Regions from separate parts of the Homo sapiens genome. Here regions 1 and 3 are each linked to region 2. The links come from fine-mapping of genetic effects on gene expression. A gene starts in region 2. Each other region holds a variant in brackets. All regions are shown on one strand. Distances are between the middles of the regions. Region 1 overlaps HSDL2 (hydroxysteroid dehydrogenase like 2). Region 2 holds the start of HSDL2 (hydroxysteroid dehydrogenase like 2). Region 3 overlaps HSDL2 (hydroxysteroid dehydrogenase like 2).

The links. PIP is the estimated chance that this variant, and not a neighbour inherited with it, causes the effect.
Region 1: its variant is the best candidate, but not a certain one, in a credible set for the expression of HSDL2 in whole blood (TOPMed, PIP 0.77).
Region 3: its variant is the best candidate, but not a certain one, in a credible set for the expression of HSDL2 in whole blood (TOPMed, PIP 0.61).

What each region holds. Positions count from the first base shown.
Region 1 is chr9:112,413,735-112,424,655 of GRCh38, reverse strand. It overlaps HSDL2 (hydroxysteroid dehydrogenase like 2), which reads right to left. Exons shown (of 11, transcript NM_032303.5): 5 at 7,712-7,815; 6 at 5,698-5,796. Among named protein-coding and RNA genes, the nearest start is that of HSDL2, 39 kb to the right of the region's middle. The variant G/A (reference allele first, on the strand shown) is at 4,687.
Region 2 is chr9:112,374,150-112,385,070 of GRCh38, reverse strand. It overlaps HSDL2 (hydroxysteroid dehydrogenase like 2), which reads right to left and starts at 4,963. Exons shown (of 11, transcript NM_032303.5): 1 at 4,891-4,963. The coding sequence starts at 4,907. It also overlaps a transcript of PTBP3 not described here. RefSeq lists a silencer at 4,760-5,009 and enhancers at 5,230-5,349, 4,781-5,380, 5,380-5,629, 5,730-5,779.
Region 3 is chr9:112,398,459-112,409,379 of GRCh38, reverse strand. It overlaps HSDL2 (hydroxysteroid dehydrogenase like 2), which reads right to left. Exons shown (of 11, transcript NM_032303.5): 2 at 5,222-5,385; 3 at 3,658-3,756; 4 at 359-473. Among named protein-coding and RNA genes, the nearest start is that of HSDL2, 24 kb to the right of the region's middle. The variant A/C (reference allele first, on the strand shown) is at 5,661.

The sequences.
Region 1 (10,921 bases), 40 kb before region 2:
GGGCTGTCTTATTACAATAAAACTATAAATAAGCAATAAACATTTCTTAAAAGCATTGCTGGGCTCTCAATAAGTCAAGAGAAAACTACTGGTGAAGGCTAGAGAGGAAGAGAGAGGAGAGTGCAGTAAAGCAAGAAAAAGGAAACCAAGGATGTAAGAATTGGAATATTATTATAGATTATATTATTACCTGCACAGAAAATCCAGGAGACTCTAGATAAATTATTAGACTCAACAAGAAAGTTTAGAAAGGTAGCTGCCTATAATGTTTAAATGCAAAAACATTTCTATACACCCTAGCACCAAACAGAAAATATAATTTTTTTTTTTTTTTTGAGATGGAATCTCGCTCTGTCGCCCCGGCTGGAGTGCAGTGGCACGATCTCGGCTCACTGCAAGCTCTGCCTCCCAGGTTCATGCCATTCTCCTGCCTCAGCCTCCCAAGTAGCTGGGATTACAGGCGCCCGCCACTATGCCCGGCTAATTTTTCTGTATTTTTAGTAGAGACAGGGTTTCACCATGTTAGCCAGGACGGTCTCAATCTCCTGACCTCGTGATCCGCCCACCTCAGCCTCCTAAAGTGCTGGGATTACAGGCGTGAGCCACTGCGCCCAGTCTAATTTTTTTAAAAGATACCATCTAGGCCAGGTGTGGTGGCTCACGCTTGTAATCCCAGCACTTTGGGAGGCCAAGGCAGGAGGATCATCTGAGGTCAGGAGTTCGAGACCAGCCTGGCCAACATAGTGAAACCCTGTCTCTACTAAAAATATAAAAATTAGCTGGGCGTGGGGGCGAGTGCCTGTAATCCCAGCCATTCGGGAGGCTGAGGCACAAGAATCGCTTGAGCCTCAGAGGCAGAGGTTGCAGTGAGCTAATTGTGCCACTGCACTCCAGCCTGGGCGACAGAGTGAGACTCTGTCTCAAAAAACAAACAACAACAAAGATACCATCTAGAATTGTAGCTGCCTCAAAACGAGACGGTTAGAAAGTGTTCCCTTCCCTAATGTTCCCATGCTCATATAAGTCCTTTAGAATTCAGGGACTTCTGGCCTGGGGCAGTGGCTCACACCTGTAATCCCAGCACTTTGGGAGGCCGAGGCAGGTGGATCCCTGAGGTCAGGAGTTTGGGACCTGCCTGGCCAACATGGTGAAACCCCCTCTCTACTAAAAATACAAAAATTTGCTGGGCATGGTGGCAAACGCCTGTAAACCCAGCTACTCAGGAGGCAGAGGTTGCAGTGAGCCGAGATTATGCCACTGCTCTCCAGCCTGGGCGACAAGAACGAAACTCCGTCTCAAAAAAAAGAAAAGAAAAGAATTCAATGACTTCCACATTTCCCTCTTCCCCAAATTCCAGGTTTTGAAGACAGTGTAGTGCTTTTGGCTAGAGACAATTATTAAACTTTTCTCTTATCTTGTCTCTTCAATATAGGGAGTTGTTATTTGGTACTTGTATTTCATATTCCCAGTTATTCTATATAATCCATGTACATTTGACCATATATTAAATGTACTACAGGTTTATTTGCCAGCCATTATTTTCTCTCCTCTTTTTTCTGACTCCTATCTTGAAAACTCTCTGTTCTGACAGATTTGCTGCTTGGTTAACAGCCCTTTCTACAAGACTCTTCTCAAGTGTGGTAGCATATCCACATATCTTCCCTTCATCTTGTCAATAAGTAACTATCTTGGCTGAGTCCCTTTGTATCAGCAACGTACAGATGTTATTCCACTGCCTTCTAGTTTCTGGCATTGAAGATAAAAGAGTCTGCAATCATTTTCCTTTGTAAGTAACATATATTCTGCCTGAAGGCTTGGAAGATTTTTTTATCCTTGAAATTCTGAGGTTCTCCCAGATGTCTTTCTCCCCCTCATAAATTCAGCCTCAAATTTGGTAAACCTTTTAGTTTACATCCATATCGGTCTTTCTTCAGCTCAAGGGAACTGTTTCCTATTATTCATTCAATTATTGTTTCTCCTCTATTTGTTCTCTTTCCAGACCTCCTTCTGGGACTCCTGGTATTTGCATGTGAAGTTCCCCGGATGTGTCTTCTAAGTCTCTCTCCATTTACTTCAGGGTGTTTCTGCTCTTCTGAGATACTTCTTGCACTAGAATATCCAAGCTGCTTACCCAGGTGTTACTCAACATCCAACCCTTCAACTATTACATACATATATATGTATATTTTAAAAACACAATCTATTTTTAGTTCCAGAGAGCATTTTTCATATTATATTTCAATCTCTTATGTCAGGATTTTTGTTTTTAAATTGAGATATTTTTTCTTTAACAGTTTGATTTCACTGAAAACTGCTATTCTGGGTGTTGGTGTTCTGTTTATTTTTTCCATGTCTGGATATTGGGTCCTCTTAGCTGTACTGCAATTTTTCTTTGTTTCCTTATAGCACTGTTCACCCTTATATAGTTCGTTTGTTTGTTTGTTTTTTGAGACAGTCTCACTCTGTCGCCCGGGATAGTTTAAATGATGCCAGCTTTGCCAGCAGTAGTAAGTTATCATATCAGATATACCAGTCACTGAATCTATTTTGGGACTTGAAGAAGTCTCTGAGGTCTCCTCACTTCCACTCCTCAAGGATAGGAAATACTTATCTTGCCTGTTGAGTCACCCTGTTGAATCCTCAGATCTCCGTGGTCAAAGCCCTTCTGAGTATCTGTTCTTTCTCAAGTTCTCTCACCTGGCTCCATTCTGTCCTCTAGCTCAGAGAGAACAGTCTTTCACAAGCTTCTCAAGTTCCTTCTCTTACAGAATCAAGTCTTACTCATTCCTTCATAGGCTCACCTGCCCACCGTCCTAGCAGCTGCTCCAATCAGGGGAAAGGGAGGGACGGCAGGGACATGAATTCCAGTAGTCATCTAGAAACCCCCTCTGCCGGCAAATTCAGTGAAAAAGATTCCAATTTGCCATCAGTAGAAATGTTTTCAAAAATGTAATAAGGCCGGTGCAGTGGCTCATGCCTGTAATCCCAGCACTTTGGGAGGCCGAGGAGGATATATCACTTGAGGCAAGAAGTTCAAGACCAGCCTGGCCAACATGGCTAAACCCCCTTTCCACTAAAAAAAACTACAAAAATTTTTTTTTAAATGTAATGAAGAATATGAAGACTTTCCAAAGGAATCCAAAAATATCATGCATTTACAAAGATCTGAGTGACTATTACGGGCAGAGCACTACCCTAGGAGCAGAAACACCAGTATTGATTCCTAAGGTGGTTCCTCGTAGAGGGGCCATGTTGATTTTCTGTTTAAATTCCAATGTGAGTATAATCAAGTTTCTGTTCAATTTTTGTTTGTTTGTTTTTTTGAGACAGGATCTCACTCTGTCCTGTCTCAAAAGGCTAGAGTACAGTGGCATGATCACGGCTCACTACAGCCTTAATCTCCAGGGCTCAAGCAATCCTACAATCTTAGCCTCACGAGAAGCTGTGACCACAGGCATGCTCCACTGTGCCCAGCTAACTTAATTTTTTGTAGAGATGGGGTCTCACTATGTTGCCTAGGCTGGTCTTGAACTCCTGGGCTCAAGAGATCCTCCTGCCTCTGCTTCTCAAAGTGTTGGGATTACAAGCACGAGCCACTGCAACTGGCCTGTTACATTTTTAAAGAGTGAAATGAAAAAGTGGTTCCCACTATGCATTCTCTTTTTTTGTTTGTTTTTTAACCCACTTCCTGTTTAGGAAAAAAAAAAATTACCAGCGCTCATTTAATTTTACATAAACACACACGTTGAGGCTGAAGCAAATCTGACTGATTTTCAATGTGAAAACATAAAAGTTATTGAGTTATTTCTAAACAGAACTTGTCTCTAACCCTAATGTAACAGAAATGTATATGATGTTACATTAGAATTAGAGACGAGTATTCTCGGGACAAATGGGAAAACCCTAATGTAACAGAAATGTATATGATGTTACATTAGAATTAGAGACAAGAGTATTCTCGGGACAAAGGGGAAGTGGGTTAGTTGAGACAGGGTCTCACTCTGTCGCTGAGGCTGAAGTGCAACAGCATGACCATGGCTCACTGCAGCCTTCAACCCCCGGACTTAAGTGATCCTCCCATCTCAGCTGGGGCCATAGGTGTGCACCACTACACCTAGCTAGGTTTTTTTTGTGTGTGTTTTTTTTTTTAAGAGGCCTCACTATGTTGCCCAGGCTGGTTTCAAACTCCTAGCCTCAAGTAATCCTCCCATCCAATCTCAGCCTCCCAAAGTGCTAGGATTACAGGAGTGAGGCACCACACCCAGTCCCTCTGCATACTGTTTATCATTAGACATACTTTTCTGCGATGTGATTGCCATTTACATATTTTGTTGCTGTTGTTGAGACAGGGTCTTGCTCTGTTACCCAGGATGGAGTGCAGTGGTCCAATCTGGGTTCACTGCAACCTCTGCTTCCAAAGTTCAAGTGATTCTCATGCCTCAGCCTCCCAAGTAACTGGCTAATTTATCCTATTTTTAGTAGACACGGGGTTTTGCCATGCTACCCAGGCTTGTCTCAAACTCCTGGCCTCAAGTGATCTGCCCATCCTGGCCTCCCAAAGTGTTGGGATGGCATGAGCCATCTGTAACCACACCCGGCACCATTTACACTTAAGATAAAAAGAAGTTAAGGTTTTCATGGGCATTACCCACTAGTACATGGAAAAATGTGTAGTGAAATGTTATC[G/A]TCTCTTTTTCTTCCTTTAAGCTACTCTGATATACAAGCAGAGGGTAAGAACCTATAAGAAAGACAGGCTTTCCTTTTTTCTCATTTTTGCTGGCTTTCCCTCATTTTTATATATCTTATTGCCCAGCAAGGAAGCCATCAACTTCTGTTATATCATAACTGTAAATTTGCACACCAAGCCCAGGCATACACAGGTTCTTCTGTCATCTCACAGGGTTCCAGGTACTCTGTGAATTCAGAAGAATTCATGTGAAAGGAAAGATAATCCAGCTTTTTCTAAAGGAAAAAGACAAGGCCAGTAAGAATACAAAAATGTTAAAAAGCATTTGTTAGAATGTGTGAGGAGAAAACAAAAGTATGAGAATCTGCAGAATTTAGGTAGTTTCCAGAAACAAAGATGGAGAAAGAGTTGGGGAAGTGCAGCTTCTCCTGTTGGCCTTCAAAAGATTCTTAAAGTGTTCCGGTGGTCAATGTTCCTACAAAGGCTATTGGCTGAAGAGTCACTCATGTAGTCTAAGCCAAGGCAGGAAGATGATTGAAAAGGATCTTATGTTGTACAATAAAAAGTTGAACTTGTTTCCCAACAAACAGATTGAAGTTAGTATTAACAGTCTACATACTCTCACCCTATCATACCCAAGATGCACCTCAAGAGTGTCAAGGACAGGCCGGGCGTGGTGGCTCATGCTTGTAATCCCAGCACTTTGGGAGGCCAAGGTGGGAGGATCACTTGAGGAGTTCGAGACCAGCCTGGCCAACATGGTGAAACCCTGTCTCTACTAAAAATACAAAAATTAGCCAGGCATGGTGGTGTGCACCTATAGTCCCAGCTGCTTGGGAGGCTGAGGCACAAGAACTGCTTGAACCCAGGAGGCAGAGGTTGCAGTGAGCCAAGATCACACCACTGCACTCCAGCCTGGATGACAAGAGTGAGATTCTGTCAAAAAATAATAATAAGTGTCAAGGACAATACATGAAAATCTAACAAATGAAGTTTTTAAAAATACATACCTGTTTTAGGCCATAATGCATTGACTGCAATTTCACCTTTAAATTCTTCTGCCATTCCAAGCACATACATAGACATACCATACTTAGCAATGGTATAAGCTGAAAGAACCACAAAAAATAATAATTTAATTATAAAAGAAATTAATTTGATTAACTTGTGAGTAGAAATAACCAATTTTTCTATTACTATTTTCTTCCTGATATATGTGTGCATGTATGTATATACATATGTATGTGTATATATCTGTGTGTATATACATATACATGTGTATATATATGCATATACATACAACACACCCACGCACACATATATATCAGGAAGAAAATAGTAATACACACATATATACACACACATACATATATACATATATATACACATACTTTTTTTTTTTTTTTGAGACAGGCTGGAGTGCAGTGGTGTGATTACGATTCACTGCAGCCTCTACCTCCTGGGCTCAAGCAACCCTCCCACCTCAGCCTCCCGAGTAGCTGGGACTATGGGTGTGTGCCACCAAGCCTGGCTAATTTTTCAATTTTTTTGTAGAGACAGGGTTTTGCACGTTGCCCAGCCTGGTCTTGAACTCCTGGGCTCAAGCAATCCACCTGCCTTAGCCTCCCAAAGTGCTGGGATTACAGGTACGAGCCACCGTACCCAGCCTCCCTGATATATTTTTGAGAATTCTTTTCAATAATATAAAATATAACTTTTCACTGTACTATTTTGTAAAGAACAGGTTTTATAGAAGTGAACAGAGATGAAATCATTTTATATATCTCCCTCCTAATATTTGATTAAAATAAAAGTGACAGTAATAAACTTTCATTTTTCTTAATACTATGAGGGTAAATTACATTATTATCTCTTAATATGTTTCTTTTTTTGAGATACAGTTTCACTCTGTTGCCCAGGCTGGAGCACAGTGGTGCAATCTTGGCTCACTGCAAACTCCACCTCCCAGGTTCAAGTGATTCTTGTGCCTCATCCTCCGAGTAGCTGGGATTACAGGTGTGCACCACCATGCCCAGCTAATTTTTGTATTTTTAGTAGAGATGGAGTTTCACTATGTTGGCCAGGCTGGTCTCAAACTCCTGACCTCAAGTGATCTGCCTGTCTCGGCTTCCCAAAGTGCTGGGATTACAGATATGAGCCACCATGCCTGGACTTTTTTTTTTTTTTAAGAATGAAAGTGTTTATTTAAAGGGAAACTACTGCTAGTAAAACAATAATAAAAAAAGGCTGCAAATGTATTTAACCTAGTCAATTAAAGTGGAACTTCTTTCAGTTTTGCTCTGTGGGTTCCCATTCCAAGTGCCTTTCCAAATGTTAGTGAACTGTGCTGAAATAAAAACTAAGTGTTTGATACAACTATTTTAAAGGAGGCATCTATATGTAAATCTTGTTACTTAGCATATTTACCTTAAACCATTAGTTTGCTATGAAAGGTAATAGGGTTTTTTTGTCGTTTTTTTTTTTTTTTTTTAGAGTCAGGGTCTCGCTCTGTCACCCAGGCAGGAGTGCAGTGCCATGATCCTAGCTCACTGCAGCCTCAAACTCCTGGGCTCAAGCGATCCTCCCACCTCAGCCTTTCAAGTAGCTAGGACTACAGGTGCATACCTGTCTAAGAAAAATAAAGTATCTCATAGATAGTTTTTAACCAACTTTATAGATGAATAAATTACACACAGTAAAACACACTCATTGGGAAATGAAAGAGCTTTCTGAAATGGTAAAAATCTGTATCTTGATTTGGGTGTTGGTTATATACATTTCTCAAAACTCATCAAACTGAACCATTAAGAGCTGTGCATTTTATTGAATGTCAATTATGCCTCAATTTTTTAAATTACAGATAAAAGATGAAGAATCTACTTTCCAAATGCCACTTAATGACTTGGCATAGAAAATTCAATGATGAATGTTATGTGCAGATTGTGATTACATCAGACATACACAGATTTAATTCAAAACAAATTAAGCACAAACCATCCCCTCACCCTACCACCTACCACCTACCACAGTGCTGTTTGAACCAAACTGGATTTAGGTTCAGTGGTGGACTGATATTGAGGATATGAGCAACTTTGCTCTTTTTCAAATAAGGAATACATGCTTTAGATCTGAAAGCAAAAGAAAATACAAGCCAAATTTAATAGCTTTCTAACAATTTCTCCACTTTTTTTTTTAAGAGAGGGGGCCTTGCTCTGTTGCCCAGGCTGGAGTGCATGACTCGATCACAGTTCACTAAAGCCTTGAGCTCCTGGGCTCCTGGGCTCAAGCAATCCTCCCACCTCAGTTTTCCGAGTAGCTGGAACTACAGGTGTGCAGCACCACCATGCCCAGCTAATTTCTGTACTTTTTTTTTTTTTTTTAGAGACAGGGTCTAGCTTTGTTGCCCAGGCTGGTCTTGAACCCCTTGGACTCAAGCACTCCTCCTACCTCAGACTCCCGAAGTGCCAGGATTATAGGTTTACAGGTGTGAACCACTGCGACCAGCCAACTTCTTTTTTTTTGTTTGTTTTTTTTTTTAATTTTAAGACAGGGTCTCTCTGTTGCCAGGCTGGAGTGCAGTGGCATGATCACATCTCATTGTAGCCTCTGCCTCCCCAGCTCAAGTGGTCCTCTCACCTCAGCCTCCTGAGTAGCTGGGACTACAGGCATGTGCCAGCATGCCCAGCTACCTGGATAGTTTTTGTAATTTTTTTTTTCTTTTTTTAGAAACAGGGTCTTGCTATGTGGCGCAGGCGTGTCTCAAACTCCTGGACTCAAGCGATCTACCCGCCTCAGCCTCCCAAAGTACTAGGATTACAAGTGTGAGCCATCATGCCGGGCCAATCCACTTTTTTTTTTTTTTTGAGACGGAGTCTGGCTCTGTTGCCCAGGCTGGAGTGAAGTGGCACAATCGCTCACTGCAAGCTCCGCCTCCCGGGTTCATGCCATTCTCCTGCTTCAGTCTCCTGAGTAGCTGGGACTACAAGGCGCCCGCCACCACGTCCGGCTAATGTTTTGTATTTTTAGTAGAGACGGGGTTTCACCGTGTTAGCCAGGATGGTCTCGACTCCTGACCTCGTGATCCACCCACGCTCCGCCAAGATACATTTTAAACTACTCCTACAGAGTAACTGAACTTGCTCAGAAATCTGTAGGGAACTGTTTGTTTGTTTTGTTCATAGGGTACTTTTGTTTGCTTTCTAGAATTAAGACAGAAAAAGCAACTAATTTTCATCCTTTGAAATTCTGCTTAATGGCCTGGCAACATGATCTGCTTGATGGAAAAAAACAAATCCTTGATATACTAGCCTTAAGCCCAACTGAGGTTATCCGCAACCACAACCATCCCAAATTCTGCCTCCCTAACACACATATGTAATTTTCAGAGATAGTTAATATACTTGTCGGTCAGCACAGTGGTAAATAACATGAGTGTTCAAGTCAGACAGACCAGGGTTCAAATTCTGCTTCTGCCCCTTCATTGTGTGACCCTGGGAAAATTGTATAGCATTCTAATGCTCAGTTCTCTCCTCTGCAAATGTTGGTAAAAGTCACTACCTTCTATGATTGACCAAGAGATTAAAATTAGATGATATATATGAGATACTTAGGACAATGTATATACTAAACATGAAATAAACAATCGCTGTTGTTAGTATTATGTATGCTGATTTATTTCATCTTAATAGGCATAGTACTTCTACTACATTGGAACTGTAATTTAGTAATATAACTCTCATTACATTCCCAAATTTAATTTTCACCAATATAAAATATGCCTTTGGGTGCAATACATAGCTTTATTTTTAAAAAGTCACTCATTAAGGTAGGTAATTTATTTAAGATTCAGATTCAATATTTCTAAAATGTTAATTTTTACATAATGTCAGCAGCTAAATAATATATTATAGCTTAATTTATAGCTTTATTTTAGCTACAAATTTAGCTTTCGTTTACATTCAATGACTTCTAGGACTTCTAGGACTCTGAACTTGTCCATTCTTTTTTTTTTCTTTACCCTGAACCAGGAGCTGTGAATGAACTAGTTCATTCTTCTTTCAAGTCAGTTTTTTAATTACCAAATGTACAATACTGGTGTTAAAAACAGCAACATCTTACCAAGCTTACCAAATATAATCAATACCACTAGAGGGGTTTTGGTAGATACTGTTTTCATTTCCAAAGGTGCTTCACTTTTATGGAGGTGAGGTGAGGTGGGGCAAACAATATTACAGCTGAGTTTCATTAAAACAGTGAAACTGCAACTCGAAGCATCAAGAAGAAACAAACTAAATCTACTCCAGTAAATAAGACCATATTTTACACTCAAAGGAAAGAGCTCATTTCATTTACATTCTAAACATGGGCTTTCCTTTGATCTATGGGACAAGACCTTTCCATCTGCACTTTGCTGGCCTGGACCTCAACATTGCTAATCCTACATCAGGTGCATCTGTCACAGTAGCATGCCCTCTTATATATTATATTGAAAACTCTTAGCACCACACTTAGATACTGATACCTTCAGCCGAATAAAATAGTTACGTTTACTGAAAACCTAACTATGTGCCAGACTCTGTTTTTATTACCTTTCATGAATTATTTTACTTACTTGGGGTTTCAAACTCAAAGACCTGTAAGGCATTTGAGTAAATGAATAAAGTGAGTTGGTGTAAAAACTAGAGGTTCCTCTTCAAAGACTTTCCTCCCTGTCTAATTAGGAATAAATAGTAACTTCTCTTAGAAGCAAAATGTATTCAAAGACCCGTACTAACATTCTTAAATATCTGCTAGCCATGATAAAGAAATCAATGTACTTTAAGTTCTTAGCTCCCACAATTTAGCCTAAATATTTGCCCTGGCATGCATATACTGGTCCAAGCAAGCATTAGGTCATAGCCTGTTCCTCTTCCTTATTTGAAGGTGTTTTTACCGTTCTCAGCATTCCACAAGTTACCTCCTCCTTCCTTTGTTCTCCTCTGCCTTTGCCTCTTTTTAAAAAAAGTTCTAAGTTGCTAGCCAACCGGGACAAATACAGAACGTCAGGTCCCGTTCCAGCCAATGGAAACCGGACACAGCAGTAGGGTGGACGCGTCAGGTTATAAATGACCCTGTCTGCTTTGATCGGTGTACTCTTGTGGCAAAACTGCTGGCAAGTATACCCTTTCTGCAGAAAGTATAAAAACGGCCTTGCTGAGTAAATTAAATTTATGTTCAAGTGCTATTTCTTTATGG
Region 2 (10,921 bases):
GCAAGCAAGGCTGTAGACAGGTCGTGGTGACCTAGCCTGCAGAAATGAACTCCAGACACCCCTGAGCAAGGTTAAAAGACGAAAAACAATTTCCTTTACTGTCTCTCTTGTACTATTAGTTATGACTATGTTTGCCAATGCTTGTATTTAGTAAGATTTGCAAAGTTCCTGTTTTTCTTTCGATGCAGCTGCTAGGCCACTAGCTATGCAAGGCCACAGGTTAGTGCCAGGTCAGCAGTTATGCTATGGATTACGTGATTTGTCACTGTAAAATTTACTGCCTTTGTTTTGATCTTGTATGCTGGCCTATATAAGCTAAACTCTGTTTTTGTTCAAGGCTCAGCTTTTTGGATGTGAATCCACTGAGCCGGTGAGTACCTTAAATAAACATCCTCCTGTCTTCCCAATATCGGTCTCTCTGGTCCTCAGTTTACCACAACAGCCTCAACAGCTCATGGCAGCGTCAACCTCCTGGGCTCAAGTGATTCACCTCAGCTTCCCAAGTAGCTGGGACCACAGGCTAAAGTGATTTTTAATGTAAGTATTTACAAGAAAATGTCCCAACTATTGCTGTAAAAAAAAGCCATATCTCTTTGCTTTGAGTATAGCTTGATTGATTCCCAGTAGGAGAAAGGGCATTTTCTTCCTCACTCAGAGTCTCTGGCATTGGCAGAAAAAAAAGCAAACATAACCCTGATCTGTGCCAGTAAGAAGTCCTCCAGCTCCAAAGCATTAGTACCAGAATATAGAAGGCAAGAGCACTTCAAAGAAGGCTCCAAATTTCTTAGTATTATTGATAGATGGCTAAAACTTGCTGATGAAGAGCTAACTTACAGTTTAATTTACTAAAATTCTCTGGTACCCCAAAATCAGGTAAAAGTACTGAAATTTTTAGTAAAAGGAAGAACAACTGTTTCCAAAAAACTATACAAATTATTCTAAACTTCATTTGGAAAAATAAATACCCAAGTATAACCAGGAAAATTCTGAAAAATAATCCAAATGTGGTGGGAACTAGCTTTCCCACATATTAAAACATTTTGTAAAACTAGAGCAATTAAAATAGTTTGGGCTGGGTAGAGTGGCTCACATCTGTAATCCTAGCACTTCGGGGGCTGAGGCAGGAGGATCACTTGAGCCCAGGAGTTTGAGACCAGCCTGGGCAACAAAGTGAGACTCCTCTACAAAAAAATTTTTTAAAAATAGCCAGGCATTATGGCGCATGTCTATAGTCCCACCTAATTGGGAAGATGAGCTGGGAGGACTGCTTAACCCCAGGAGATCAAGGCTGCAGTGAACTATGATGGTGCCAATGCACCCCAGCCTGGGTGACAGAGCGAGGCCCTGTCTCAATTAATTAATTAAGTAAACAGTCTGGTACTGGTACATGAATAGAGACTAAAGTAGCAGAGCAGAAAGTCCAGAAACAGAGCGCTATATGTGCAAGAATTTAATATACAACAGAGGTAGAATTTCGAGCAGAAGAGAAAAGATTAACTCTTAGGTCAATGCTGCTAGGACAAATGAGCAGCCATCTGAAGAAAAATCAAGTGGGCTTCCTAACTCACTTCCTGAAAGAAATCTCAGGGGGATAAAAAAATCTGACTATAAAAAATATAGACAATACAAATATATTTGAAAAATACAAAAATATAAGACCATAAAAATATCAGAAGAAAACTAATTATAAAAAGATCTGCCCAGGCACGGTGGCTCACACCTGTAATCCCAGCATGTTGGGATGCCGAGTCAGGAGGATTACTTGAGGTCAGGAGTTTGAGACCAGCCTGGCCAACATGGTGAAACTCCATCTCTACTAAAATTACAAAAATTAGCCGGCATGGTGGTGTGCGCCTGTAATCCCAGCTACTTGTGAGGCTAAGGCAGGAGAACCACTTAAACCTGGGAGGCAGAGGTTGCAGTGAAACGAGATCGCACCACTGCACTCAAGCCTGGGCAACAGAGCAAGATTCCATCTCAAAAAAAGAAAGACAGAAAGAAAGATCTCGGTTTAACTCAAAGGCATACAGAGCAAGATTCCATCTCAAAAAAAAGAAAGACAGAAAGAAAGATCTCGGTTTAACTCAAAGGCTTACAGAGCAAGACTCCATCTCAAAAAAAAAAAAAAAGATCTTGGTTTAACTCAAAAATGCAAAAGCCTTAAGAGACTGATAACTCTGGCTTCACAAAAACATGTTTCTCCATGTTAAATAAACAGTATAATCAAAGTCCAGATGCAACATGAAAAACTGTGGAAAATATTTGTAATGTGATAAAAGACAAATTTTTAAAATACACAGAGCCCTCAGAGATTAACGAAAAACCTCATTTGTTAAGCCAGACAAATATAAAGATACATAGATGGCTTTAAACCAGGGTTTCTCAACCTCTGCACTACTGACCTTTTGGACTACATAATTCTTTGTTGTACGGAATGCTTGTGAATTGTAGGATGTGCACCAGCATCCCTGTACTCTACTCACGAGATGCCATTAGCATCTCCATTCAATTGTGACTATCAAAAATGTCTTGAGATATTACCAAATGTCCTCTGGGGATCAAATTGTCCCTGGTTTAAATACACAAAGAGATCCAAATCCACACTTGTGATAAAATAAATGCAAATTTTAACAATAATGAGGTGACACTTTTTTCTCTAATTAGATTTTCATCATTAACTATTTTGCGGTTAGCCAACAAGTGGGATTAGAGGATCTCATTTATCCTTTTGGGTGTGCAACCCTTCTGGGGGGTCATCTGGAAATATCTGTCAAAATATAAAGTGCATTTCCTCTTTTTTCTTTTTGAGACAGACTCTCACTCTCTCTCGCAGGGTGGAGGGCAGGGCAGTGGCATGATCTCGGCTCACTGCCACCTCCGCCTCCAGGTTCAAGCGGTTCTCCTGCCTCAGCCTCCTGAGTAGCTGGGATTACAGGTGCCCGCTACCAGGTCCAGCTAATTTTTGTATTTGTAATTTTTGTAATTTTGTAGTTTTAGTGGAGACGGAGTTTCACCACGTTGGCCAGGCTGGTCTCGAACTCTTGACCTCCAGTGATCCGCCCGCCTCGGCCTCCCAAAGTGCTGGGACTACAGGCGTGAGCCACTGTGCCCAGCCACATTTACTCTTTGATCCAGCAATTTCACTTCCAGGAGTTTATCCTACATATACACTTATATATGTGCAAATAGATAAATACAAGTATAATTATGGAAGCAAAAAAAGAGTATCCAAAAAACTGGAAACAGTCTAGTATCCAACAATAGGGAACAGGTTAAATAAACAAAGGTATATTCATATACAGGTTGAGCAAACCAAATCTGAAAATCTGAAATCCGAACACGTCTGGAACCAAGCATTTTGGATAATGGATACTCAAGCTGTTACAGAATATTATGCAACCATTAAAAAGGAGGAGGGGCCAGGCGCAGTGGCTTACGCCTGTAATCCCAGCACTTTGGGAGGCCGAGGCAGACGGATCACGAGGTCATGAGATTGAGACCATCCTGGCTAACATGGTGAAACCCCGTCTGTACTAAAAATACAAAAAAATCAACAGGGCGTGGTGGCACGCGCCTGAAGTCCCAGCTACTCGGGAGGCTGAGGCAGGAGAATTGCGGGAGGCGGAGGCTGCAGTGAGCCGAGATCATGCCACTGCACTCCAGACTGGAAGACAGAGCGAGACTCCATCTCAAAAGAAAAAAAAAGGAGGCGGAAGATCTGCCATGTACTAAAAATGTATGTCCCTGGGCACAGCGGTGCATGCCTGTAATCCTAAATACTCCAGAGGCTAAGAAGGGAGGAACATCAGCCTGGGAGTTCAAGGCTACAGGCCAGTCTGGGCAACATGGGAGACCCCGTCTTTAAAAAAAACAAAGAAAGAATGTCCCAAGACATACCAACTAAAAGTAGCAAGACCAAGAATAGAGTCTGCTGCTATTTTTAAGAAAGGGTATGTGTGTGTGTGTGTGTGTGTGTGTGTGTATCCGGATGTATACAAATTATGTTCATACATGCACGAAATAGAAACGTAAGTAACTGGGGAACTAGATTTTAGGGATGGGGAGACTCACTTTTTACCCTATACTCTTTGAACTGTTTTAAGTCTTTGGCTATATGCCTGCATGTTTCAGGCAAATTACAAAATCTGACAACACGTCACTCAACTCAAGATACCCAGACCTTACATAAACCAGAAAGTAGAATGGTGGTTGCCAATGTACGAGCGGAGGTGGGGAAGAGGAGTTGTTTCATGGATAGAGTTTCAGCTTGCAGATGAAAAAAGTTCTGGAGATTGACTGCACAACGATATGAATCTACTTAACACTACTGAAGTGTACACTTAAAAAACGGTTAAGATGGCAGATTTTGTACGTATTTTAACACAATTTTTTAAGGTGAAAAAAAAATCCCCCAAAGATACCCATGTTTTAAGATCGGTTTAGTTTCTAATTTGGAAATCATTTTTTAAACACTCCATTATTACTCTAGAATTGAGCGTCAGGAACAAGTGAAAACTCTTTAAACTCTGGAGCTGCTCCTGCGACCTTTCACCTAGAACTCACACGCATTCGGCCAGGCACGCACTCCTGCTAAACTCAGGGAGGGCCGGCACTGGGGGCGGCGTGGTGACTCCCCCTCGGCCCTTTACCCGTGGAAAAGGTTTCTACACTGCTGCCATCCTGTAATACAAAAGTTTGTGTTCCTTTTCACACGTTACCGCAGATTCTCGGTGCACAGTGCCCAGCGCGGACCAGAGCTCAGAGCGTGCCCAGGCAGTATCCTTGACCTCCCACAGCCGGGCCGGCCAGCCCGGGCGATCCGCGGCGGCCCCACCGAGACGCGCCCTTCGCCCGACAGGGTCTCTCCCCGCGCCGCCCCTACCCCCTTACCCGGTGTTGGGTAACATGACTTTCGTAGATCAGAGGAGGTGGCGGCGACAGCGGCGGCGGCGAGCAGAGAGCTAAAGCTGGACCGTCCCTCCGCATTTATCCCCGCCCCTGCCCCGCCCCTGCCCCCCCCGATGCCTGTGCGGGAACTGCGCGCGGAAAAGCCGGGATCGCCGAGTGCGCCTGCGTATGCAGTGGGCCTCCTGCGCCCAGCGTTCCTCTTCGTCGCCTCCCAAGCCTGGTCCCTGATTGCAGGCTCTCCGCGCAGGCGCTTTGAGGCACAGCTCCGCCCCGCCCCCTCACTGGTCGTACGGTGACAATCAGGCTCCTGTCGGCGCCTAGCGTCTGGGCAGCGTCAGCCGCTACGTCCACCTTTTCCCTGTCTCTAGGGGTTTCTCCTCGCGCCGCTGTGTTCCAGCGCCGGCTCCGAGCTGGGAGGGTGACTGAGCCCTGAGCTTGGGCCCTCCGAGAGGTGCGTTAGCTCTGGGTCTTCTTGCCCCTACGCCCGAGCCTGGCGTTCTCTCGGCCCCCTCTTAGGAACGCTAGCCCTGGGCAGAAATTGCCTTTGTGGCTGAAGTCGGCCAGCGTCGCGTTTCCACTCTCCCGCCGAATCTGGACCCAAGCCAGCCTTCCCTTGTGCATCGGTAGATAGCTTGTGTTAAGGCGCCAGCTTCTTGGAACAGAGCTCTCTGCAAAAGTCGCGCTGAAGAATTCATAGTCAAAAGCTGAACTTGCAGAAGTTTCTACTTCTGGAATGAGTGTTGAAATGAGATCAATTCTGACATTCAGTTTCGCTTTTGGGATTATGCCTTGGACTAACTCAGCTACTCTGATGAGCTAAAGACTGTAGTATATTTGAAGGAAGACACGAGGAACTGTTTTGTATTTTGTAGGGATAGAACAGGACCTTGAGGAGATTATTATATGAAGACTAGTTAAAGAAACTAGCCTGGAGATGGCTTATGTACTCTCTCCTTTGTTTTTGTTTTGTTTTTTGAGACGGAGTCTCGCTGTCGCCCACGCTGAAGTGCAGTGGCGCGGATCTCGGCTCATTGTAACCTCCGCCTCCCGGGTTCAAGTGATTCTCCTCCCTCAGCCTCCGGAGTAGCTGGGACTACAGGCATGCATCACCACGCCTGGCTAATTTTTTTGTGTTTTTAGTAGAGACGGGGTTTCGCCATGTTGGGCTGGCTGGTCTCGAGCTCCTGACCTCAAATGATTGGCCCGCCTCGGCCTTCCAAAGTGCTGGGATTACAGGCGTGAGCCTCCGCGCCCGGCCTCTCTCCCCTTTGTTATGGGCCCTAAATGACTCTATTTCCTCCTGCATATCACCTGCCCGACTCCTGTAGGCATTTGAATTGATGATTCATGATACGGTCTTTAGAGGCTCCAGAGGAATTTGCAAATTATTATCATCCACTAAGTGATTGCTGATTACCTGAGATACAGCAGCTCAAAAAGGACAAGGTCTCTGCCTATGGGAGGTATGAGTAGCCAGTGTGTTCTTTAGACTGTTGTTAAGCATTAGGTGTTTTAAGAAGAGTGTTGATAGAGACTGTTAGATGAAAATAACTTACTCTCCTCTCATCCTTAGGAGCACTTGCTGAAGCGTGTATATATCTGTCGAATAGAGTGAATTCTTAGTAACGGGGTGACATTTCCTTCATATCATCTAAAATGTTCTCTCCTTTTTGAAAGCCACAATATCTTCAGTCTGTTAGAGCCTCCTTTCTTGAATTTGTGTGCTTCTATTTCCATTTGTTACGGAAAGAGAGCTCAACGAAGAGGCAAAGCAAACAAAAAACCTTTGCCAATTTTTCAGTCATAACGATATTTTGTGAGCCTAAATACCTGTACTTACACTATTTTTATACTTTGCGATGGCTTTCACAGAAGGCAAATATATTCCTAAATTATTAGAGGTAGTTTTACCAAGCAAGTTTAAATCCATTGTATTCAGTACTTTGACTAGAGTTCATTTAAAGTGTGATTTGGAGTTACCCATGACCTTCTACCCCATTACCTTGATTAACCTAGTGTTAGATTAATGCTAGAGGTGAGGAATGGGTGAAGGAGAGGACTTGTGAACATAATTAGATCTTCATTTTGGAAGGTGAATAATTTTGGCTTAGAACACTTCTGACTGCAGCATGAAGAATAGTTTGTGAGTAGATAAAGGCACAGAAGCCATTTAAAAGCCCATAGTAATGTAATGTGTAAGAAAAGTAGTAACCTGAACTAAGGCAGTAATAGTAGAAATGAAAAGACATACTCAAGATATGGAACCTGGCAGATGTAACTAATGATTAGATGTAGGAGCAAAGGGGGAAGATGGTATCAGTGGTGACCTTCAGATTTCTGGTGTAAAGTCCTGGGAGGATGGTGATAACACAGTAAAGAAGTGAAAACAAATGGTTTGAAAAATAGATGTCTTGAAAGTCAGGTAAGTCTCACTCATTTCACCCCTTCTCAGCTTGATAAAACTACCTAAAAATGCAACAGTTTCCTGACAGACTACTGGTTACAACACATTCTCCCAACCAATTTATATCCCTTAAGTTTTGGTTATATGCAACATTAATGTAATTTGGCTAATTTAAACCAAATTAAAGGGGTTGGAGAATTTAGAAGAATTCTGGGATAGTTTATATAACTTAAGGAAGAGCTGAACAACTAAGCTTGACAATGGGAACTAAGGTGCTTCCATGATCCTCAGCAGCATGATCTTTCTAGAATGCATTGTAGGTGGCTTCCCTGTCTTTTCTGTGTATCTGTTCAAGCTTCAAATACTAAGACAGTCTAGTACAATGTGTTTCGTTTTGTTTTGTTTTTTTGAGATAAGATCTTGCTCTGTCACCCAGGCTGGAGTGTAGCAGCATGATCATGGCTCACTGTAGCCTCAACCTCCTGGGCTCAGCCACCCAAGTAGCCAGGACCACGGGCATGTGCCACCACACCTGGCTAATTTTACTTTTTATAGACACAGGGGTCTCACTATGTTGCCCAGGTTGGTCTTGAACTCCTCACCTCAAGCAATCCTCCCACCACACAGCCTTCCAAGGTGCTGGGAAATGTTTCAACCTGTAAATTAGTTGGCCATGGCCAGGGACACAAGTGGATATGGACAATGGGGAAGTAACACAACATTGCATACCTACCTACCCCAGGTCATGGAAGTTGCGTAAATGTAGAGCAAGTAAATTGGCATTCATAATTCTGGGAAGAAAGGGGTCATAAAACTTTTTATTTCATAGGGCTTGTGATGGTTAATACTGAGTGTCAACTTGATGGTATTGAAGGATGCAAAGTATTGGTCTTGGGTGTATCTGTGAGGGTATTGCCAAAGGACATTAACATTTGAGTCAGTGGGCTGGGAAGGGCAGACCCACCCTTAATCTGAGTGGGTACCATCTAATCAGCTGCCAGTGAATATAAGACAGGCAGAAAAACCTGAAAAGATGAGACTGGCCTAGCCTCCCAGCCTACATCCTTCTCCTGTGCGTTTATCCCCTTCTTGCCCTCCAACATCAGACTCCAGGTTCAGTTTCGGGACTTGGACTGGCTCTCCTTGCACCTCAGCTTGCAGATGGCCTATTATGGGACCTTGTGATCATGTGAGTTAATACTTAATAGGCTGGGCGCGGTGGCTTATGCCTGTAATCCCAGCACTTTGGGAGGCCGAGGCAGGCGGATCACAAGGTCAAGAGATGGAGACCATCCTGGCCAACGTGGTGAAACCCCATCTCTACTAAAAATACAAAAAGTAGCTGGGCGTGGTAGCACACACCTGTAGTCCCAGCTACTCGGGAGGCTAAGGCAGGAGAATCGCTTGAACCTGGGAGGCGGAGGTTGCAGTGAGCGGAGACCACGCCACTGCACTCCAGCCTGGTGACAGACCGAGACTCTTTCTCAAAAAAAAAAAAAAAAAAAACTTAATAAACTCCCCTACACACACACACACACACACACACACACACACACACACGTATATAAGGAAGTAATAGGATATATATATATATATATATATCCTCTAGAGAACCCTGACTAATACGGATTTTGGTACCAGAAGTAGGGTCCAGAACAGGAGAAGGCTCTGCAACAGGTCCAGGCTGCTGTGCAAGCTGTTCTGCCACTTGGGCCATATGACCCAGCAGATCCAATAGTGCTTGAGGGATGAGTGGCAGATAGGGATGCTATTTGGAGCCTTTGCCAGGCCACCATAAATGAATCACAGTGGAGGCCTCTAGGATTTTGGAGCAAGACCCTGCCTTCTTCTGCAGATAACTACTCTCCTTTTGAGAGACAGCTCTTAGCCTGTTACTGGGCTTTGGTGGAAACTGAACGTTTGACTATGGGTCATTAAGTCACCATGTGACCTGAACTGCCTATCATGAACTGGATGCTTTCTGACCCATCTAGCCATAAAGTGGGTCGTGCACAGCAGTATTCCATCATCAAGTGGAAGTGTTATATGCATGATTGGGCTCTAGCAGGTCCTGAAGGCACCTGAGGAATAAGTTACATGAGGAAGTGGCTCAAATGCTCATGGTCTCCGCTCGTGCCACCCTGCCTTCTTTGCCCTAGCCTGCACCAGTGGCCTCATGGGGAGTTCCCTATGATCATGATCAGTTGACATGATCAGTTGACAGAGGAAGAGAAGACTAGGGCCCGGTTCACAGATGGTTTTGCATGATACGCAGGCATCATCTGAAAGTGGACAGCTGCAGCACTACAGCCCCTTTCTAGGACATCCCTGCAGGCCAGCAATAAAGGGAAATCTTCCCAGTGGGCAGAACTTCCAGCAGTGCACCTGGATGTGCACTTTGCATGGAAGGAGAAATGGCCAGATGTATGATTATACACTAATTCATGGGCGGTAGCCAGTGATTTGGCTGGATGGTCAGGGACTTGGAAGAAGCAAGATTGGAAAATTGGTGACAATAAAATTTGGGGAAGAGGTATGTAGATGGACCTCTCTGAATGCTCAAAAACTGTGAAGTGCTAACCAACGGGTGACCTTAGCAGAGGAGGATTTTAATAATCAAGTGGATAGGATGACTCGTTCTGTGGACACCACTCAGCCTCTTTCCCCAACCACCCCTGTCATCATCCAGTGGACCCGTGAACAAAGTGGCCATGGTGGCAGGGATGGAGGTTATTCATGGGCAACAGGGACTTCCACTCACCAAGGCTGACCTGGCTACAGCCACTGCTGAGTGCCCAATTTGCCAGCAGCAGAGACCAACACTGAGCCCTCAATATGGCACAGTTCCTCATGGTGATAAGCCAGCTACCTGGTGGCAGGTTGATTATATTGAACCTCTTCCATCATGGAAAAGGCAGAGGTTTGTCCTCACTGGAATAGACACTTACTCTGGATATGGGTTTGCCTATCTTGTACACAATGCTTCTGCCAAGACTACCATCCATGGACTCACAGAATGCCTTATCCACTGTCGTGGTATTCCACACAGCATTGCCTCTGAACAAGATACTTACTTTATGGCTAAAGAAGTGTGGCAGTGGGCTCATGCTCATGGAATTCACTGGTCTTACCATGTTCCCCATCATCTTGAAGCAGCTGGATTGATAGAACAGTGGAATGGCCTTTTGATGTCACAATTACAACACCAACTAGGTGACAATACTTTGCAGGGCTGGGGCAAAGTTCTCCAGAAGGTTGTGTATGCTCTGAATCAGTGTTCAATATATGGTACTGTTTCTCCCATAGCCAGGATTCATGGGTCCAGGAATCAAGGGGTAGAAGTGGAAGTGGCACTACTTACCGTAACGCCCAATGATCCACTAGCAAATATTTGCTTCCTGTTCCTGTGACATTACATTCTGATGGCCTAGAGGTCTTAGTTCCAGAGGGAGGAATGCTGCCACCAGGAGACACAACAATGATTCCATTAAATGGGAAGTTAAGATTGCCACCTGGACATTTTGTGCTCCTCCTACCTTTTAAGTCAATGGGCTAAGAAGGGAGTTAGTGTTGCCTGGTGTGATTGACCCGGATTATCAAGATGAAATC
Region 3 (10,921 bases), 24 kb before region 2:
GTCTCTACTAAAAATACAAAAAATCAACTGGGCATGGTGGTGGGCGCCTGTAATCCCAGCTACTCAGGAGGCTGAGGCAGGAGAATCGCTTGAACCTAGGAGGCAAAGGTTGCAGTGAGCTGAGATCGTGCCACTGCACTCCAGCCTGGGCAACAAGAATGAAACTCCATCTCAAAAAAATAAATAAATAAAAAATAAAATAAAATACTATTGACTGAATGAAGGACTTTTAGACCCTTATAAGGATTGACTAGATTTTGAACTACACTGTTAATTTGGCTCAAATCTGTTTACAACTATGTAAGTTCCCTGAGAAACACCGCAACTTCCTCCCCAACAACTCTTCTTGCAAACTTACGCAAGGTAGGTGCCTCTGGTGTTCACGTTCATCATCAGATCCAATCTCTTGGTAGGTGTGTCCAATGTATTGGTCAAACTAATGGCACTGGCATTATTTACCAGAATATCAATTCCTGTTTTCAAAATAATCAATTTCATTTTAATGAAAGACTTTTTATCACACACAAAAAAAGCGTTTACTCTCTTGAACCCTCAGTTGATTCACAAATACAGTCATGTACCACACCTAACATTTCAATCAACAATGGCCCATATACGCAACATGGTCCCTTAAGATTACAATACTGTTTTTTTATTTTATCTCTTTTCTGTCTAAGTTTGTTCAGATACATACTTACTGTTGTGTTACAAACGCCTACAGTAGTCAGTACAGTAACATGTTATACAGCTTTACAGCCTGGAAGCAATAGGCTATGCCATACAGCCTAGGTATGTGGTCAGCTAGACTATCTATGTTTGTGTAAGTATACTCTATGTTCATACGATCATAAAATCACCTAATAATGCCTTTCTCAGAACATATCCCCATCATTAAGCAATGCATGGCTATACTTCCTTTAGATAATATGACTAACCACTACCAATGCAAGACTGGTAGCTATTTCAAAATAGCACCTGCATGATTGTCACTAGCACAGTGGAGATATAGCCAATTGCCAGAGCTCCATGTGAAACTACAAGGAGGCTTAGTCTTCGGTGGTTTGTAGCTTCCACTCTTAACTGTTCTCTTACCTCCTGGTTGTCCCTCCCTGTCTCCATAAACCTTGGATCAAATTCCTTAAAGTCTTTCTTCCTCTCTAGCATGAAGTTTCAAAGGCCTGTCCTCCCTCCAAGCATAGTAGTCTCCCTTCCCCCAAGGCCCCTCACTTAAAGGGAAAGGCTCCTTTCTGGTCTTGAGAACTGGGAAAAGAGAAAGACCTACTGTTTCAATCCCAGGCAGATCATCAAAGTGGATCAATTTTGTTTTAGTGACTCATACACACACACAAAAAATAAACCTAGAGTAACTACTATTTCTGCAAATTCTATCTAGTTTCTACCTATAACCAACAAGTTTTGCTTATAGTTATATGCTTAGTGAAATAACATTAAAGGAAAATGGTAAAAATACAAAAACTATGTCAAACATTTTTTCTTTGTTTCTACCTGGTCTTCATTATTCTTTGTGAAGTGTACTTAATGATGGTTGTGTAACAATATAATAAACTTCAATGTCACTGAACTGTACACTTAAAAATAGGATGGTAAATTTTATGTTATGTGTATTTTACCACAATTTTAAAAAATTAAATAATAAATTCAAGGCTGGGGACAGTGGCTCATGCTTGTAACCCCAGCACTTTGAGAAGTTGAGGTGGGTGGATCCCTTGAGGTCAGGAGTTTGAGACCAGCCTGGCCAACATGGTGAAACCCCATCTCTACTAAAAACACAAAAATTAGCTAGGCCTGGTGGTGGGCACCTATAGTCCCAGCTTCTTGGGAGGCTGGGGTTGGAGGATCACCTGAGCCCAGGAGGCCAAAGCTGTGGTGAGCCACGATCATGCCACTACATACCAGTCTGGGTGACAGAGTGAGACCCTGTTTCAAAGAAGAAAAAAAAAAGAACTAAAACTGAATGAATATGGGAGAATGAAAAGCTTCAGCTTTCTCCCCTTACGTCCTCTCCAAAAATTAGTGGATAAACTAATTACATCAAATCCTAAGTGGCACTAGTTAACCACTTTTACTACTAGGTGAAGTCATTTTAGATAAAATATCCTGCATTTGAGCGTGGCACATTTCACATTTAGCGCCCTATCAGTTGGACAAACATCATTTTGCATTTTCTCTCCTCTTCTGACACAGGCATTCACATTTCTTTGGGAAAGGCTGCCGGCTAGGGGTAAGATTTTGGATTTAAGGGAAGAGGCTCCACTTGAGCCAAAGCTCCGTGCTTCAGTCCAGCACCCCACAGCACTCTGCATTGGGATTATAAGTACAGCCTTGCTAACACTGAAGCATTCCCTCATTTTCCACTGGCCATTGTCCCTCACATGTACATATGGTCCTCCAGAACATTAGCGGGGAGAGTGGTAATGGTTTAGGCAGGATTTGGACATGCCTAGGTGCCCTACTATAATACCATGAAAGCCTTAGCTCAATCCCCAACACCTTTTTTCTAGGAACTTTTGAACTAATTGGGGAGAAAAGAAATACTAAGATCTAAAATAGTACAAGATAAGGATCAAATGAATGTTTTAAGAAATCAGAGAGGCCGGGCACGGTGGCTCACGCCTGTAATCCCAGCACTTTGGGAGGCTGAGTTGGGTGGATCATGAAGTCAGGAGTTCGAGACCAGCCTGGCCAATGTGGCGAAACCTGTCTCTACTAAATATACAAAAATTAGCTGGGCATGGTGGCAGGCGCCTGTAATCCCAGCTACTCGGGAGGCTGAGGCAGGAGAATCGCTTGAACCCAGGAGGCAGAGGTTGCAGTGAGCCGAGATTGCGCCACTGCACTCCAGCCTGGGTGACAAGAGCAAGACTCAGTCTCAAAAAAAAAGAAAAAAGAAATCAGAGAAAGAAAAATATAATTCTGATTAGTTGGCATGGTGAGGGAACTGACTTTGTGAAGAAGATGAAATTTAACCACATAAAGGAAGAATTTTTTCAAAAACAAATATATAAGGCACAAGTGCAATTTTCTCACATACATAGATTGTGCAGTGTCCAGGACTTTTAGGGTATCCATCACCCAAACAGCAAACATTGTACCGATTAAGTAATTTCTCTTCATCTACCCCCCTTGCATCCCTTCTTTCTTCCCAGTCTCCACAGTCTATCATTCCACACTCTTTTTCTTTTTTTTTTTTTTCTTTTTGAGACAGAGTCTTGCTCTGTCACCCAGGCTGGAATGCAGTGGTGCAATCTCAGCTCACTGCAACCTCCACCTCCCAGGTTCAAGCAATTCTTCCACCTCAGCCTCCTGAGTAGCTGGGATTACAGGCATCCACCACCATGTTCAGCTAATTTTTGTATTTTTAGTAGAGACGGGGTTTCACCATGTTGGCCAGGCTGGTCTTAAACTCCTGACCTCAAGTGATCTGCCTGCCTCGGCCTCCCAAAGTGCTGGGATTACAGGTGTGAGCCACCACGCCCAGCCTTATCAGATGGTTTTAAATCATGTTCTGTGTGAGCAAATACGTATTTCTCCAAAGACTCAGAAAATTCAAAACTCAAAACAAATTTTTAAATTAACATTATAGTTATACCTTTATTTTACCAATATCCAATAATTTTTTCAGAATGAAGGTATTACCTCCAAATTTCTTGATGGCTTTCTCCACTGCAGCACTGATCTGCTGTTCATCTCTCACATCAACAATACATGGCAAGGCCTTTCCTCCAACTGCTTCAACTTATATAAAGGATACAAAATGAAAAAGCGTTAAAGCATTTAAATATTATACCTTTAATTCCAATATCACAGTCAAAAGAAAAAAGTACCCTGTTTTCAGAAAATCAATATAAATAACTCTATCTTACCACCAGTGACTCTACCATATAGCAGGACAGACTAGCTAGGCTAACACTATTAAAAAACAAAAACGAAGGTTTGGTGGGGGTTTCTTTGTAATTTTTTTAAAAAGCTAAAAAAAGGAAGTTTTTTGTTTGTTTGTTTTTGTTTTTCAGACAGGGTCTCACTCTCTTGCCCAGGCTTGGGTGAAGTGGCACAAACACAGCTCACTGCAGCCTCAATCTCCCAGGCTCAAAGGATCCTCCCACCTCAGCTTCCCAAGTAGCTGGGACTATAGGCATGCACCACCACGCCAGGCTAATTTTTCTATTTTTTGTAGAGACACGGTTTTGCCATGTTGGTCAGGCTGGTCTCGCACTCCTGACCTCAAGTGATCCACCCGCCTTGGCCTCCCAAAGTGCTGGGATTACAGGCTTGAGCCACCTCACCCAGTTGAAAGTAATTTTTAAAAACTTTTTATTGTGGAAATATTCTAAACTATATAAAAATGTAAAGATGCTGTAATAAACTAACAGGAATCCATCACCTATCTTCAACGATTGTTAGTTTTGTCAGTTAATATGTTTATCTTTCCTGTCCCCTGTTTTATTTTTTGCTGGTGTGTTTTAAAGCAAATCCCTGACATCATTTCACTCATAAACACTTCACATGCATTCCTCTAACATAACCACAGTGCTCTGAACATGATTAACAAAACTAGCAATGTCAACTGAACTTGAATTTTTAAGCCCTCTCTCCTGGCTCTGTGCCTAGCGCTATGCCTTAAATAGAAGTATGTGATAATTATTTGTCAACTAAAAGTATTAAAATGATGACTTGCAAATTGTACAGAGAATAAATAACACAGAACGCTTTCTCAAAGAGTTCATGCCACTCACCAATCAAATTCTCTCCTCTCTACTCCACTTCCCTACTCCCCCTCCCATCCAAGAACCACTGCCCTCAAGAACCAAGATTTTTTTTTTTTTAAGAGATGGAGTCTCGCTCTGTCACCCAAGCTGGAGTGCTGTGGCATGATCTTGGCTCACTGCAACCTCCACCTCCCAGGTTCAAGTGATTCTCCTGCCTCAGCCTCCCGAGTAGCTGGGTGAAATTACAGGTGTGAGTCACCACGCCCCGCCATGAAATAAGATTTTTAACTGGAGTTTCTCACATTGCTTAAAAGTGCTGGTGGAGAAAAACGGTCAGAAGCACTGCCCCAAGGTGACAACATAAATACTTCTTTCACTAGATAAAATTATGTTCAGGGTAGCTTTCAAATAGCTTTAACTAAACTCTCCAGCAAATTCTCTATGTATTGAAACCACTAGAAAGACATTTTATCAAATGGCACTGTCACACTCACTTTCTTCAGCAGCAGTATAGATTGTGCCTAGAAGTTTTGGATGTGGCTGGGCGGTCTTTGCAGCAATAACAATATTTGCTCCATCCTTTGCTGCTTTCAATGCAATAGCTTTGCCAATGCCACGGCTTGCACCTGTGATAAAAACTGTACATCCTGCCAGCCTCCTACAACAGAACAAATACGACCTTATTAGAAGACCCAATGTTTTATTTACTGACAGGTATCAGAACCTCATGCATATTTTCATAATATATGTTTCCTCCTCTGTGAAATTTTCTCTAAACCCTCCCCATGCCCATCTGATGGCAGATAACTCCACTATACTCCCATTGCACAATGACTGATAAATTATTTATGACAACTGCAGTTGGCCAGTCTTGCTGTGATTTAGCAAACAAAATCTGTTCAAATGCAAAGCAAATCTTCAAGAGAAATAAAG[A/C]ATTATAAAACAAATTATATAAACATGCATTTTTTTCCCCACAGAAAACGTGTTAATAAAGCTTTTTTTTTTTGAGTGGTGGGATTATGAGCAAATTTTATCACATCCTTTATATTCTTTAATATTTTTCAAAGTTTCCACAATGACTACATACCACTTAAAATAAATTACCTAAAAGCAAATAATTGTTCAATGAATGCTCATAATAGCCAAGGTGGAAACAACTCAAACGTCCATCAGCTGATGAACGGATAAGCAGAATGTGGTGTAGCCACGCATACAATGAAATAATGTTCCGCAATAAAGTACTGCTATGAGCTACAACATGGATGAACCAAAAACATTCTGCTAAGAGGAAGAAACCAGTCATGAAGGACCACATATGATGCCATTTATATGAAATGTCCAGAATAGGCAAACCTATAGAGACAGAAAGATCAGAGGTTACCTAGAGCTGGGAGTGGGAGGGATTGGAGGCTGACAACGGAGGGTTGAGGGGTTTCCTTCTAGGATGATTAAAGGTTTTAAAATTGACTGTGGTGATGGTGGCACAACTCTGTGAATATATTAAAAGCCAATGAATTGCGTATTTTAAATGACTGCATAGTGGGGTACGTGAATCACATCTCAAAAGAGCTGTTAAATAAACAAACGCTCACAAATTGCTGCAGGTTGATCTGAAATATTCTGATTCAAATGTACTGATGGGTCCCTGTGCCCATTTCATTCTTTGTGTGTGTGTGTTTTGTGTGTGTGTGTGTGTTTTTTTTTCTTTTGAGACACAGTCTCGCTCTGTCGCCCAGGCTGGAGTACGGTGGTGCAATCTCAGCTCACTCAACCTCTGCCTCCCGGGTTCAAGCAATTCTCCTGCTTCAGCCTCAAACAATTCTCCTGCTTCAGCCTCCCAAGTAGCTGGGACTACAGGCGTGGGCCACCACGCCCAGCTAATTTTTGTATTTTTAGCAGAGACGTGATTTCACCATGTTGGCCAGGCTGGTCTCGAACTCCTGACCTCGTGATCCACCCGCCTTGGCCTCCCAAAGTGCTGGGATTACAGGCATGAGCCACCGCGCCCGGCTAGCCTGTTTTTTGCTTTTTTTAAATGGAGATGGGGTCTCACCATCTTACTCAGGCTGGCCTTGAACTCCTACGTGCTTTTTTTTTTTTTTAAGACAGCTCTGTTACCCAGGCTGGAGTACAGTGGCGCAATCATGGCTCACTGCAGCCTTGAACTCCTGGGCTTAAATGATCTTCCCATCTCAGCCTCACAAGTAGCTGGGACTACAGGCACACACCACCATACCCAGTTACTTTTTAAAATTGTTTGTACAGACAGGGTCTTGGTATGTTACCCAGGCAGGTCTCAAACTCTTGGCCTTATGTGATCCTCCCACCCTGGCCTCCCCCCATTTCATTAAGTTCACTTAAACTTTCTGCTTACTCAGTGGCTAAGTGAAACGGAGACACCTAAAATAATTTCCTAGTAAACTCATAAAAGAAAAACTAAAAGAATAAAATAAAGATAACAGCAAGGGAAACCCGCTTTCTTATTTACTTTCTAAGGGCAAATTTAAAAGTCTGCTTAAGGAAAAGAATGGAGAAAGAAGAGCAAAAGTGACAATGACAAAGAAAAAGGGATGACCTGAGATTGGTGATAGATTAACAGGTTTGTTAATAAAGGAACATAAAACTCTTGCACGACCCAGAGGATTACACTCCAGAAGAAAGAGATCAGAGGTAAAAGTGGGAAGCGGTTTTAAAATAAGGAATAATTTGTTTGGTAAGAAGGAGGGAGAGTGGAGAAGTGGGGAGAAGTCAGAGAGGTTGAAATTATTTTTCATGAAATATAGCACACATATAAAAAGCATGTAAAACAATGTGTATTGTTTAATGAACAAAATTAAAATGAACAGTAGTATCAAGGCAAGAAATAGAATATTACCAATACCCCAGAAACCAGCCTGTATATTCCTCTCCAACTCTATCCTCCTTCCCTCCCCCACCCCACAGAACGAAAACTACCTTAAATGTTATGCACTCCCTTGTTTTTTCATTATTCCTAGTACCTAGGTCTCTGAGTCTAAATCAACAGTCTGCAAACTATGGCCCCAGGCCAAATCTGACCCACCACCTGTCTGTGTGTGGCCCTGGAGCTAAGATTGATTGTTACAGATGAGTATTTGTGATCAATTCGATGACAAGGAATGCTAATTTTGAATCCCAATTAGGTAAAACATTAGCTCTCTGCTACTTTTTTTTTTTTTTTTTTTTTTTTTTTGAGAGCGGTTCTTGCTCTGTCGCCCAGTCTGGAGTGTGGCTCACTGCAACCTCTGCCTCTGGACTTAAGTGATCTTTCTGCCTCACCACTCAAGTAGCTAGGACTACAGGCGTGCACTACCACACCTGAAAAAGTTTTAATTTTTTGTAGAAACAAGGTCTCACTATGTCACCCAGGTTGGTCTTGAACTGGGCTCAAGCGATCCTCCTGCCTTGGCTTCCCAAAGTGCTGGGATTATTAGCATTAAATTAAGTTCATTTAAACTTTTTACTTACTCACTTGCTAAGTAAGAAGGAGACATCTAAAATAACTTCCTGGTAAACTCATTAAAAAAGAATAAAAGAATAAAATTAAGATAACAGCAAGGGATGTTATCAATCAATAACAGGAAGATAACCCCGGCCTTATCTCCCTGTTATTGATTGAATTGTGTCCCCCAAAAAGCATGTGGAAGTCCTAACTTCAGAAGGTGACCTCAGTTGGAACCAGGATTGCTGAAGATGTAATTAGTTAACATGAAGTCATATTGGAGTAGGCCCTTACTCCAATCGGACAGGTGTCCTTCTAAGAAGAAGGAAGACTATGTAAAGACAGCCACATGGAGAATGTGTGATGACAAAGGCAGAGAGCCTGGAGGGATGCAGCTGCAAGCCCTGAACACAAGGATTGCTGGCCACCCCCAGAAGCTGGGAAGAAGCAAGGAAGGATTCTACCCAGAACTACAACAGCACAGCCCTGCTGACATCTTGATTTCAGAATTCTAGCTTACAGAACAGTGAGAGCATCCATTTGTTTTAAGCCATCCAGTTTGTGGTTCTGTTTGTTTTGTTTTGTTTGAGACGGAGTCTCACTCTGTCACCAGGATGGAGTGCAGTGGCACGATCTTGGCTCACTGCAACCTCCGCCTCCCAGGTTCAAGCGATTCTCCTGACTCAGCCTCCCAAGTAGCTGGGACTACAGGCATGCGCCACCACGCCCAGCCAATTTTTGTATTTTTAGTAGAGATGGGGTTTCACCATGTTGGCCAGGATGGTCTTGATCTCTTGACCTCATGATCTGCCCACCTCGGCCTCCCAAAGTGTTGGGATTACAGGTGTGAGCCACCATGCCCTGCCCAAAGAGGATAATATCCTTACCAGCAGCAGTGAATGAGTATAAGAGTTCCCGTAGCTCCACCACCTCCCCAACACTTGGTAATTTCTGACCTTAAAGTTTTTTCACCAATTCAGTATTATGAAATGATATCCCAAGGTGATTTTCATTTGCACTTCCCCAGTTACTAATGAGGTGGAATATATTTTTGTTCCCATGTTAATGGTCGCTTGTGTTCCTTCTTGTTGCGGGAAGTCAGGGACCCCGAACGGAGGGACCAGCTGGAGCCGCGGAAGAGGAACATAAATTGTGAAAATTTCATGGATATTTATCAGTTCCCAAATAATACTTTTATAATTTCTTATGCCTGTCTTTACTTTAATCTCTTAATCCTGTTATCTTCGTAAGCTGAGGATGTACGTCACCTCAGGACCACTGTGATAATTGTGTTAACTGTACAAACTGATTGTAAAACATGTGTGTTTGAACAATATGAAATCAGTGCACCTTGAAAAAGAACAGAATAACAGTGATTTTTAGGGAACAAGGGAAGACAACCATAAGGTCTGACTGCCTGCGGCATCGGGCAAAAAGAGCCATATTTTTCTTCTTGCAGAGAGCCTATAAACGGATGTCCAAGTAGGCGAGATATTGCTAAATTCTTTTCCTAGCGAGGAATATTAATATTAATACCCTGGGAAAGGAATGCATTCCTGGGGGGAGGTCTATAAACGGCCACTCTGGGAACGTCTGTCTTATGCAGTTGAGATAAGGAGTGAGATACGCTCTGGTCTCCTGCAGTGCCCTCAGGCTTACTAGGGTGGGGAAAAACTCCACCCTGGTAAATTTGTGGTCCAACTGGTTCTCTGCTCTCGAACCCTGTTTTCTGTTGTTTAAGATGTTTATCAAGACAATACGTGCACCACTGAACATAGATCCTTATCAGTGGTTCTGTTTTTGCCCTTTGCCCTGTAATCTTTGTTAGACCCTTATTAGTAGTTCTGCTTTTTGCCCTTTGAAGCATGTGATCTTTGTACCTACTCCCTGTTCTTACACCCCCTCCCCTTTTGAAACCTTTAATAAAACCTTGCTGGTCTGAGACTCAGGTGGGCATCACGGTCCTACCGATATGTGATGTCACCCCCGGCAGCCCAGCTGTAAAATTCCTCTCTTTGTACTGTCTCTCTTTATTTCTCAGCTAGCTGACACAGAAAATAGAAAGAACCTACATTGAAATATTAGGGGTAGGTTCCCCCAATATCTGGCATGCCAAGTGGCTTTTTCCTAAGTGCATGTGGGAACCCGATTCCTTTTGGTACGTGCATAGAAACGTTCATTGGTCCGGTTCACAGAAACGCTTGTTCGGCTCCCTGACAATTGGTGAGTTGTCTGTGTATTGTCCGGGGTAACTATGGGTCACACGAAGTCTAAGCATTATGCTTATCTCTGCTATATTAAACTCCTGTTAAAACAGGGAGGAGTTCAGGTACCTATGGAAAATATGGACATCCTATTCAGGGCAGTGGAAGAACACTGTCCTTGGTTTCCTGAAAAGGGAATGTTAGATGTGGGACTATGGGATCATGTTGGTGCAAAATTCCAGGAACTGGTCCCAACAGGAAATTATGCTCCCGTCACTGTTTGGGGTGATTGGGCCTTGGTAAGTGCTGTCCTAAAATACCAATCCTGTAACCCCCTGCAGTTACCACAGTTTTCTGTGTCTGGTGACCCTCTACCTCTTCCTCAGGTTTCCTCTCCCGTTCGGCCTTCGTTATCTGCTCAAGCCTCTCCCTTCACCAACTCCTCCCCTACCTGACGATATTGAGGACTCAATATCTAACTCTGGTGACTTTGGCTTAACGTCACCCCCAATGATCTTATTTCTTTTCAT